Regions from separate parts of the Homo sapiens genome. Here region 1 is linked to region 2. The links come from fine-mapping of genetic effects on gene expression. A gene starts in region 2. The other region holds a variant in brackets. All regions are shown on one strand. Distances are between the middles of the regions. Region 1 overlaps LOC105375587 (a long non-coding RNA gene). Region 2 holds the start of INSIG1 (insulin induced gene 1).

What was found. PIP is the estimated chance that this variant, and not a neighbour inherited with it, causes the effect.
Region 1: its variant is the best candidate, but not a certain one, in a credible set for the expression of INSIG1 in whole blood (INTERVAL, PIP 0.77).

What each region holds. Positions count from the first base shown.
Region 1 is chr7:155,236,577-155,241,947 of GRCh38, forward strand. LOC105375587 (a long non-coding RNA gene) reads right to left here. Exons shown (of 5, transcript XR_001745437.2): 4 at 2,915-3,207; 5 at 1,693-2,257. Among named protein-coding and RNA genes, the nearest start is that of INSIG1, 59 kb to the right of the region's middle. The variant G/A (reference allele first, on the strand shown) is at 3,303.
Region 2 is chr7:155,294,720-155,300,090 of GRCh38, forward strand. INSIG1 (insulin induced gene 1) reads left to right here and starts at 3,159. Exons shown (of 6, transcript NM_005542.6): 1 at 3,159-3,240; 2 at 3,540-3,978. The coding sequence starts at 3,567. INSIG1-DT (INSIG1 divergent transcript) reads right to left here and starts at 4,261. Exons shown (of 2, transcript NR_183448.1): 1 at 3,432-4,261. RefSeq lists enhancers at 2,155-2,204, 4,615-4,684 and a silencer at 2,665-3,494.

The sequences.
Region 1 (5,371 bases), 58 kb before region 2:
TGTTCCGGCACCTGCCCGCCTGCCACCGCCTTACCCTGGTGTTCCCAGAACTCCTAGAGAAAGCTTCAGTCACAAGGGTGCCACTGCCATCCCTGCTCCAGCCCAGGGCTCACGGCGCCCAGCAGTGCTGCTGCCATCCTCAGAGAGCTGTTCTGCCCTCCTGCCCCAGGCTGCCAGGCCTCTGCCCACTTCAGCTGGAGCAACAGGGCTTCCCCTGGTGCACAGAGCTAACGAGAAAGCCAGAGTGAATCCCACATTCAGCCTTCCTACGCCTCTCTCTGTCCCTATGTCTACCTCTGTCTCTCTGTCTCTATCTCTCTCTGTCCCTCTCTGTCTCTGTCCCTCTCTCTTTCTCTCTTGCTTGCTCTGTCTCTCTGTCTCTGTGTCTGTTTCTGTCTCTGCCTGTCTCTCTGTCTCTCTGTCTCTGTCTCTCACACACCCCTCCACTCCACCCTATCTGTGCCCCTCGCCCCTCAGTGGCCCGGGCCCCCCTCTTCTTCTGCTTGTAGCCACCCCCTCCTACCAGCTGGGTCCTGCCCCATTTCCTCCAGGCCCTTGGTCCATTGATTCTCTTTTAACTCTAGCCTATCCCTTTCAATTTATTATTTTTAATAAGCAGAGAAAGATTCCCAAGACTTTAATCTTAAAAAGAAAAGAAAAGAAAAAATTCTAACCTAGAAACACATCCCCCTAAATGTGGCCCTGTGACTCCCTCCCAGCTCAGGCAGCCAATCCTCCAGAAACTCCCCTCAAGGGCTGGCTTCCTCCCGTCTCTGATTTCCTGTCCCTGCAAATCTTCCCCCCAAGGGAGCCAGGGTGCTGCTGGGCACCTCTCTAATGTGCCTTCTCGGTGGCATGAGACACAGCCAGGCACCCTCCCTGAGGGCGGTCTCCTCTATGACTGAGTCTCTCTGGCTTCTTGTCCTGTTTTGCCACCTGCTCTCCTCCTGGCTCTGTCTTCACTGATTCCCTGAAAGCAGAGCCTGAGCCCGAGCTTCTCTCTGCTGCCCACTGGGGAGTCCCAAGGAGGGGTGGGGAAGGCCAGGAGGCTGATTAGGCAAGTATGCAGAGTCGGGGTCCCCAACCGGCCACTGAGGGCTCCAAACACAGCTGGCTGTGCCCTCTCACAGGGCTGAGAGCCCCCATGAGCTACTGAGGCCCAAGGTGGCCCATCAAAAGGACAAAGGGAGGAGAGCTCCTCACCATCCTTAGTCCAAGGCCCACTCCTGGGACTCTTCAGTAGCACCACTGAAGAGTGCTGGGTGCATCCCAAATCCGCAGCAGCAGTGAGCACGGGGCAGAAGCAGCCAGCACCTGGGGCCTGAGGCACATACTGTGTGCTGTGCCCCAGGGCTCCCAAGACCAGATCACCTCGGTGGTGTCTGGGGTGACTTGCGGGGCCAAGAGTCCAGGAGACAAGTGAAGGCTGAAAGGGCCCAGGGCAGGGCCAAGGGGTGTCTCCCCATGAATAGTAACAGGCCCAGGCCCTGCCCCCGTTCTTCCTGCCCATGCTAGTCTCTCAGCTCCACATTCATATGTGCCATCCACAGAGACCTCAGCTTCACATGTCAGAAACTAGGCTCAGGACGGTGGTTCCCACAAAACTTAGAAACAGAAGTGTCAAAACTAGCTCGGTCGGGGAGACCCTAACCCAGCGGTGCTGGAGGAATTAAAGACATACTCACAGAAATATAGACGTGGGAAGTGGGAAATCAGGGGTTTCACAGCCTTCAGAGCTGAGAGGCCCGAACAGAGATTTACCCACGTGTTTATTAACAGCAAACCAGTCATCAGCATTGTTTCTATAGATGTTAAATTAACTAAAAGTATCCCTTACGGGAAACGAAGGGATGGACCGAATTAAAGGAATAGGTTGGGCTAGTTAACTGCAGCAGGAGCATGTCCTTAAGTCACAGATCACTCATGCTATTGTTTGGCTTAAGAATGCCTTTAAGCGGTTTTCCACCCTGGGTGGGCCAGGTGTTCCTCGCCCTCATCCCTGTAAACCCACAACCTTCCAGCCTGGGCATTAGGGGCCATTATGAACATGTTACAGTGCTGCAGAGATTTTGTTTATGGCCAGTCCAGTTTTGGGGCCAGTTTATGGCCAGTCCAGTTTTGGGGCCAGTTTATGGCCAGATTTTGGGGGGCCTGCTCCCAATATGTCCCCCTTCTCTGATTTGCAAATCGATAAAAGCAAAGGCAGCTTTGTCACGGTGAGCTACTTCTTGCAGGAGTCAGGATCCACATCTGCAGACTATACAAAGACAAACAACACAGATTAAAAGCACAATCATCTTTGAAATCACAGAGCTTCCAAGTGTTTTTTCTCCATTTTCAGCTCCTTTGAGCACTCCAGGTTCTGGAATTAAGGTCAGGTGTGCCTGGGATGCTTTAAATATTTGTTCTTTTCATTTTAAATCCTTATGTTAAGCTCCTAGAGCAGCCCATATCATTTGAGGTTGAGGTGCCACTATACCGCCATGGTTCCAGATAATAGGAACTCTTGCCGTACTTCTTACCATTTCTACCATCTGACCGTTTTGTTCAGATCATCTGAACATAGTGTGGCCGTGGCACGCAGACTGAGAGGTGCAGTTCAAGCTAAACATCCCCTTGGGGGACCAATTAATAATGATTCCGCAGGAATCGTTGTGCAGCACCTCTGCCTGTTCTGCAATGCAATCTTCCAAACAAGTACGCTCATTTTTTCTAACTGGTTCCAATCCTGTTTACAAATAGGTTTTTGAGGGTGGTGTGTGTCAATTATAAGAGCAGATTTATTATGGTGAATACTGAGATCAGAAAGCATGTGTAACTGTCAGAGTGATTGCATCCAGTCATTATTGCCAGCCAAGATGGATAAATAAGTAGAACTGTTCTCTGTGTAAGCCCTTATTGAAGGAATACTCACGGCGGTGGTGATAACCGCTATCAGAGCTATCATTAAATTATTCATTGTGACTGGTTGTCCCGCTTTCCTCAGGTTTTCTTCCGCCATCTGTGACAGCTTCCTGTTCTGTCCCCAGGTGGGTGGCTGTGTTCGATGGGTGTTGCTCGTGACAGTTGGGGTCCTCCGCAGCGTCAGTCTTGACATGGCTGCAACCGGGGGTCCTCGGGATCCTCCTGGAATCTCTTCCTCTGCATCTGGCTCATGATAAGGTTTCAGGTGTCTTGATGGTATCCAAATCGGCTGTTGATTTTGGCCTGGAGAAACACAAGCATAACCTCTACCCCAAGTTATTATTTTACCTATTTCCCAACGTTTTGTAATTGGATCTCTCCACCAAACCAGTTGTTCC[G/A]CTTTTGTCTTTGCAGCTGGTTTCTGTAAATGCTGTTCAGCTGCTGATAACATCTGGTCTTTGGGCAGGCTCAAAAAATTTAAAGTTAATAATGCTAGGTTCAGTTGCATCTATGGGGTTCCATATACTCTGTCTCCCCCTTTCTGCTTTTGCAACTGCTGTTTTAGGGAAAGATACATTCTTTCCACTATGGCTTGTCCTTGAGAATTGTATGGGATACCAGTAATGTGTTTAATATTCCACAAAGAGAAAAATGTAGCTAGAGTTTGGCTAGGATAGCCTGGGGCATTATCTGTTTTAATAGAAGCTGGAATGCCCATCACTGCAAAACACTGCAAGAGGTGACATTTAACACAGGCAGAAGGCTCTCCTGATTGGCCTGTAGCCCAAAGTGAGAAAAGGTGTCCACACATACATGTACATAAGCTAGTCTCCCAAACGAGGGAAGATGTGTGACATCCATTTGCCAAACAGAGTTAGGTTCCAATCCTCGAGGATTAACTCCTCCTGTAAAAGATGAAGAATGGGCCATTTGGCAAGTTGGGCATCGCTGGATAATAGCTTTAGCTTCTTTCCAGGTAATACTGCATCTGCGTTTGAGACCAGAGGCATTCACATGGGTTAAATTGTGAAAGTGTCTAGCATTTGAGATTGCATTAGCAATTAGGCGGTCAGCCATTTGATTCCCTTCAGCCAAAGGTCCTGGAAAAGGTGTACGAGACCTAATGTGAGTGATGTAAAAAGGGTGCATTCTACTTCTAACTGCTCTTGGCAGTTGGGTAAATAAAGTCATCAGTTGTTCATCTGTATGAAATCGTAACTGAGCACTTTCAATTAACTGTGTGGAATGAACCACGTATGAAGAATCAGAAATCACATTAATAGGCATATCAAAAGCAGTCAATACCTCAATTACAGCTACAAGCTCTGCTTTTTGAGCTGAAGTATAGGGCATCTGGAAAACTTTACTTTTCGAGCCAGAATAGGAAGCTTTACCATTACTAGACCCATCTGTGAAACAATGAAAATGCTTAGCAGGCTGCAGGTTGTTTACTGCAGGAATTGTAAATGCAAACCCTTCACAGTCTTGCTCAGCTAAAGAGATAGTAAAGAAACTGTCTTTTAAATCTATGACTATTAAAGGCCAATTTTTTGGAATTATAGTAGGAGAAGGCAATCCTGGCTGTAATGCTCCCATAGGTTGTGTAACTGAATTAATGGCTCTTAAGTCAGTTAACATTCTCCATTTACCTGATTTTTTCTTAGTTAGGAAAACTGGAGAATTCCAAGGGGAAAATGTTGGAGCTATGTGCCCATTTTCTAATTGTTCGGTAACTAATTTCTCTAAAGCCTCCAGTTTCTCTTTGCTTAGCGGCCACTGTTCTATCCAAATTGGCTTATCTGTTAACCATTTTAAAGGTATAGGTTCTGGAGGCTTAACAATGGCCACCATCAAAAATGATATCCTAATCTTTGGCGGGAACTTTGTTTTTCCACTTGAAGCGGTTCCTTCAAACCTTGCAAATTTTTTCCTGTTCCCATGCCAGGGACATACCCCATTTCATGCATCATATGTTGACTTTGAGGGCTATATAATTGTTCTGGAATTAGAACTTGTGTTCCCCATTGTTGTAATAAATCCCTTCCCCATAAATTTATAGGTACAGAAGTTATAATTGGTTGAATAGTCCCAGATTGTCCATCGGGCCCTTCACAATGCAAAACATAACTACTTTGATATACTTCAGGGGCTTTACCAACTCCAACTATGTTAAATTGAGTGGGTGGAATTGGCCACGCAGACGGCCAGTGCTGTAGAGAAAGGATTGAAATGTCCGCTCCTGTATCTACCAAACCTTTAAATTTCTTTCCCTGAATAGTTATTTCACAGGTAGGACGTTTATCAGTAATTTGATTTACCCAATAAGCCGCGTTGCCTTGTTTATTTGTGCTTCCAAATCCACCTGTTTGTTTAATTTCACTTTTCCCCATTTTCACATACGGCAAAATTAGGAGCTGTGCTATGCGCTCTCCTGGCTTTGCTTTCCAGGGAACAGAAGTAGATATAA
Region 2 (5,371 bases):
CACAAAAAAACACTGAATTCACCGTTTAAATGGGTGAATTGCACAATGCATGAATTCGCCCTCACTAAAGCTATTAAAAAATGGCGTAGTCTGTATTGATTGCCTTTAAAAGACGTTCATGATCACTTAATAACTGGTTCCACTAATGTGAAGTTGATCCTATTTGTGTTTTTTTAAACACATTTATGGATAGAAAAAATATTTGGAAATACATACCTCAAAATGTTAACAATGGTCATCTCTAGTTGGTAGGATTATAGACTATTTCTTTAAAATATATTTTTCCACGATGTTTTACAATGAGCATGTGATGCTTTTATATGAAAAAATATATATTTGGTAATCTACTTTATCTTAAGAATATTTCTTACAAATGGTTATTAATGTTATAATAAAAAGAACAGTAAGAACAGACTAAAGGCAAGATTGCTCACTACGTGACACCTCCCAGTCTTTAGGCCTTTATGAGTGCATGATTCTTCCGTATCCGAAAGAGCTACAGCCGTCCTGTGCTCCCTTCCGCCAGCCTGTTCAGTACAGAGGCCACCAGTCTGAGGGTTACTTAGTGATCTGGGAAGGCACGGCGAGGTGTTTAACTCAACAATAGTCAACTCCCCTAGAGTAAGGCCACATCTGTGATGATTTCTGTATTGTGGGGCAATTAAGAACTAAACGGTGCCATCATGAGCAGATTTCCCTAAATGCTGAACTCAGAGTGGCTGACAGGGGCTGAAGAGAATGAACCCCATTATCTTCAACACACGGCCCACGATTAGCAGGGAAACAAAATCAACAACAGCTTTGCTTGAGGATAAGCAAATTTCAACCCCTGAAAATCTTGGAATGTGGTTACTGATATGGAGGCTCGGTCTTCAAAGGGGGTATTCAAGGGGGTAAACTCAAACTCTCCCACTGTCTTTACCCCAGGCTGCATTTCTTCATGGGGCCAGACTCCACAGGCACCTGGGCAAACACACATTGGGAACGCAGTGACAATCTCTACCTACGACTCAGAGGCCACGCTGGAGGCCCTCAGCAGGAACCCCACGGGCAACCTTCCCACATTCCCACGGGACATCTTGGTCGGTGTAAGTGCAACAGCCACAGAGCCACAGGGTGCCTCTATGACTCCAGGATCTTCCATGGTTCATAATGTCCCAGTACAGATGAGAGGAGGGACAGAGTCAGAGAGGCTGGGTTGTATGAACACTGGTTTATTAGGTAGATAGGAAAAGAAGAATGAAGTCAATAGTCTTTAGCAAGCCAACTAGCTCAAGGAATAGACAGCCCCTTTCCATTCTGGAGACAACACATAAATCTATTAATATTAAATATTGTCATGAGGTATGCACCTGCCCACAGGGGTATTATGATGGAAATACTGGGGTAGTCTGCAGGGCCAGGTACAAATGACGGGAAACAAAGCCAGAGAAACTGAAATACCTCTTGGACCCCAGAAGACAGATGTACTGATTTCTGGGATGTCAGGAGCCCAGTGCAGAGCAGCTGGATAGGTCGCTAAGAGCTTTCCCTTCTGCTTATCGGGTCTCACACACCTGGATAAACCAGTTATTGAAAGCTGACCTGCTAATGAGAAGCTTCTGGCACTTGCTGGTGTTTCCTAATTGAATGGGTGACTGCCCCGCATCTCAGGGCCGGGGCTCCCGTGCGGACGCCTCTCCATGAGGTTAGCAGCTTGATTTAGATCAGCGTGCGGGACGGGGAGCTCACAGTGGGGTCGAGGAGACACAGCACAGGCTTCTGAAAGGTGCCCTGTCCATTAGGGAGCACCCCATTTACAGATGGGTCATCCTTCAGCTCACTAGTTTCCCAGCGCATGACAGTGGGTAGCTTTTTTTTTTCCTATTATAAACAAATCTTCGATGTGACTGCGATGATCTACGGATGATCTACGTATCTGGTTGTGTGATCCTCAAGCACTTATGCAAGGTGGAGTGTAAACAATGGCCAAGACCCAAACTGCAATGTTCCCTGAAGTCCAACCTGCTTGGAGTCCTTGGGAACGTGTACAATGGTTAACAGGCTTGAGAGGAGTCAGCTGGGAGAGTGAGAGCGAGACTGCCCTGCAGAGGGGCCGCTGAGGATGGACCCCTGTAGGCCGTCCACACCCACCACGCGTGTCATCCTCAGGAAATGCAACCGGATGCTCGGAATTTCGCCCCTAAAGCGACTCAGGGCAGTCTCAGCTCAGGAAGACTTCTTTTTTTGACCTTCTGGCTTAAAGCCACAACCCCAGGCTGAGGATGCCACATCAACGGCGTTTCCTCGCCACGCTGCAGGCGTGACTCACGTTTCTAAGCCTGCAGGGTCCCCGGGCCAAGCGCGGCTACTGAGAGCACAGCGTCCTCCCTCAGCCCCTGCTCATCTGCACGGAGCAAAGCCGCAGCTTTCTCTGCTGTCAGCGCTTTATACGACTCGGATGTAGGCTCTGAGCGGGCACGGGCCCGCCCTCAGACGGCGACCCGAGGGGCAAACAGGATGGAGGCGCGCTCCCTTGGAGGCTGTGGTCTCGATTTTATCTGCTCCTGGGTGGTGCGGGTGGTTTGCTCTCTAGGCGTGAGCAAAGGCCACAAGGGGCCCGAAAAAATCACCCAAGGATGCAAGCCCGCCATTGCGCTGAGCAGGGGCCTCCCCGCCGCCAGAGCCCGCGCCCCTCCAGGGAGGCCCGCGCGATCGAGACCCGCCGCCTCCCGGCCAGGCGCGGGACACCAGGCGAGGGGAGCCAGGAGCCGGGAGGGGCGGCGCCGGGCCCGCAACCCCACCCTGTCCTGCCTCCGCCTCCTCCCGGCAGGACCGTCCCCTCCCAGGCCCCAGCTCCGCGGCCGCCCACTCGCAGCCGGCCAGTCCCGCTCGGGCCCGCGTGCCCCGCAGCCGCCACGCGCCCCGCAGTCCGTGCCGAGGCTCCCGCCCGAGTGCGCGCGGGCCGGCGGTGGCGTGTGCGCACGTCATATGGGCCGCCGGCCTCCCATTGGTTGCGGCCGCCTCACCAGACCGCGTGCGGACGGGCTCGCGGGCGGGGCGGGGCAAGCTCAGGCCACGCCCCTGGGCGGTGCGCGCGGGCGGTGGGTAGGCCGGGCAGGCTCACGTGATGCGGGCCCCGCGGCCCGCCATATAAACCCGCGCGCCCGCCAGGCGCTGCGGCCGTCCCGGGCCGTGACTCCTCCTTTCCCCCGCCCCGCCTCCGTTCGGAGAGCCGGCGGGCGGGCGCCTCTCGGCCAGGTACGCGGCCGGCTGGGATAGGGGTCGCGGGCGGGCTTTGGTCGCGCAGCAGCCGGTCCTCCCCGGAGGTAGGCGGGCGCGGGCCCTGTTGGGTCTTTGGGACGCGGGTCCCGCTGGGGCCGGGGATGCTGCTCGCTGTGAGCGCGGGTCCCGTCCGCCGCTGGCCCCGGGCGGGCGCACGGGGGTCTAACCTTGGGGGGCGGCGCTGCCGCCTGGCCCGGGTGCCGGGGTTCGCGTCCCGCGGGGCCTTCCTCGCTCTTTGTCTCTTCTGAGTGAACTTGATGACCCCCTTCTTCCAGGAAGCGCCTCTTGGACGCGTGTGACCGATGCCCAGATTGCACGACCACTTCTGGAGCTGCTCCTGTGCGCACAGCGCGAGGCGCCGAGGCCCCCCGCGAGCCAGCGCCGCGGGGCTGGCGGCCAAGGTTGGGGAGATGATCAACGTTTCCGTGTCCGGGCCCTCCCTGCTGGCGGCCCACGGTGCCCCGGACGCTGACCCCGCGCCCAGGGGCCGCAGTGCTGCGATGAGCGGCCCCGAGCCCGGCAGCCCCTACCCCAACACCTGGCATCATCGCCTGTTGCAGAGGAGCCTCGTGCTCTTCTCGGTTGGGGTGGTCCTAGCCCTGGTGCTCAACCTGCTGCAGATCCAGAGGAATGTCACTCTCTTCCCCGAGGAGGTGATCGCCACCATCTTTTCCTCCGCCTGGTGGGTCCCTCCCTGCTGCGGGACAGCAGCTGGTGAGTACCCCTCCTGGTTCTTCTGGAAGTAAAAAGGGTGTCTTTTCGGTTGAAAGTACTTTTCAGCCTATAAGAAACATGCATTTGAAACTGGAACTATCCACAGATTGAAAGTGTGCATCTCCAGTCTTGGGATTTAGAGAAATGAAGGAGGGGTAGAGAGGACCTGGCACCCCCGAGGGCGGGTTCGGGCCACAGCTCTCTGAAGTTTGAGGAAGCACAGTGATGGAGATGAGGCAGGGAGATAATTGGCTGTTCAAGCAGGTGCTGTGCCAAGCTGACTGAGGGCCCTTCCCTCCTGGCGTCCGGGTACAGCCCCAGCTGTCATCCCGCGCCAGCCGCCCCGGATTGGCCGCCTGGGGAACTGGTGAGCAGCGGGACTGAAAGGCCATTGGTCGCGGCAGCAAACATGCTACCCTGCTGGATAACTGAAAACAAACCCGTCACATGGGTTCAGGAGGCGGTTGCCAGGGGAGCAACTTCTCAGCACTTCCTTTTGCCGGGTCGCTGAGTAAACTGTGGTCTGAAGCCAAACCGCCTACACCCTGAACTGTTAGAGCTCTGTAGATTACGTTCTTAAGGAAAAGAGTAACCCCCTTACGGCGTTTAGATTTTCGTACACCCAAGCAGTAGCATAGATGCTGTACAACGTAACACTGAGTCAGTCTGAACTGTGGACACGGGGACTGCTGGGTGTGTGTACTAGACTTTCTTGGCTATCATTGAACCGCTTTTATAGAAATGTTGAGTTGATCTTGGCTCAGCAGATCACTTACTGCTCCTGTAGTCACACAGCATTTGTTTATTTAACGAGCTTGTCGGGTGCTTTCTGCAACCTCAACTCTATAAGCTGTTGAAATGTTAATCCAAAAGTGAGCACCACAAGCCCCTATCCTTAAGCAGCTTAGAGTCTGGTGGGGAAAACAAACCAGTATGTCAGTGACTCCAGTGCAGTGCAGGGAGCATCCTGTTTGCTTTGTGGCTGACGTTTGTCAGCTGACTGCTGACCATAGGCTTCAGATGCTTTGCTGTGTTCATTCCTTACAGCAATACCATGTGTAGCTTCATTTATAGATGTGGCAACTGAATCACAGGTGAAGTCACATCCAAGGGTGCGCAGGTAGAAAGGGGCCAAGCCATCGTTGGTAACTGCTCCTGCTGCCTTGGTAGGTGTGTCTCCTGCACTGTGGAAACACATTGCCTCAGTTGACTCACTGAAAACAGCAAGCAGCAGAGAGGTTTGTAGCAGATTAACAGAGGGCTCCGTGTTGAAGAACTAGGACAGGTGTCTGTAATTATTAAGTAGTGGGTAGAATGTTTTCATATTTGTTCTCGGAGGGACGGGATCCTCTTTCGTTTTTCGAAACACTTTATGTGGCTGTACTAATTGAAC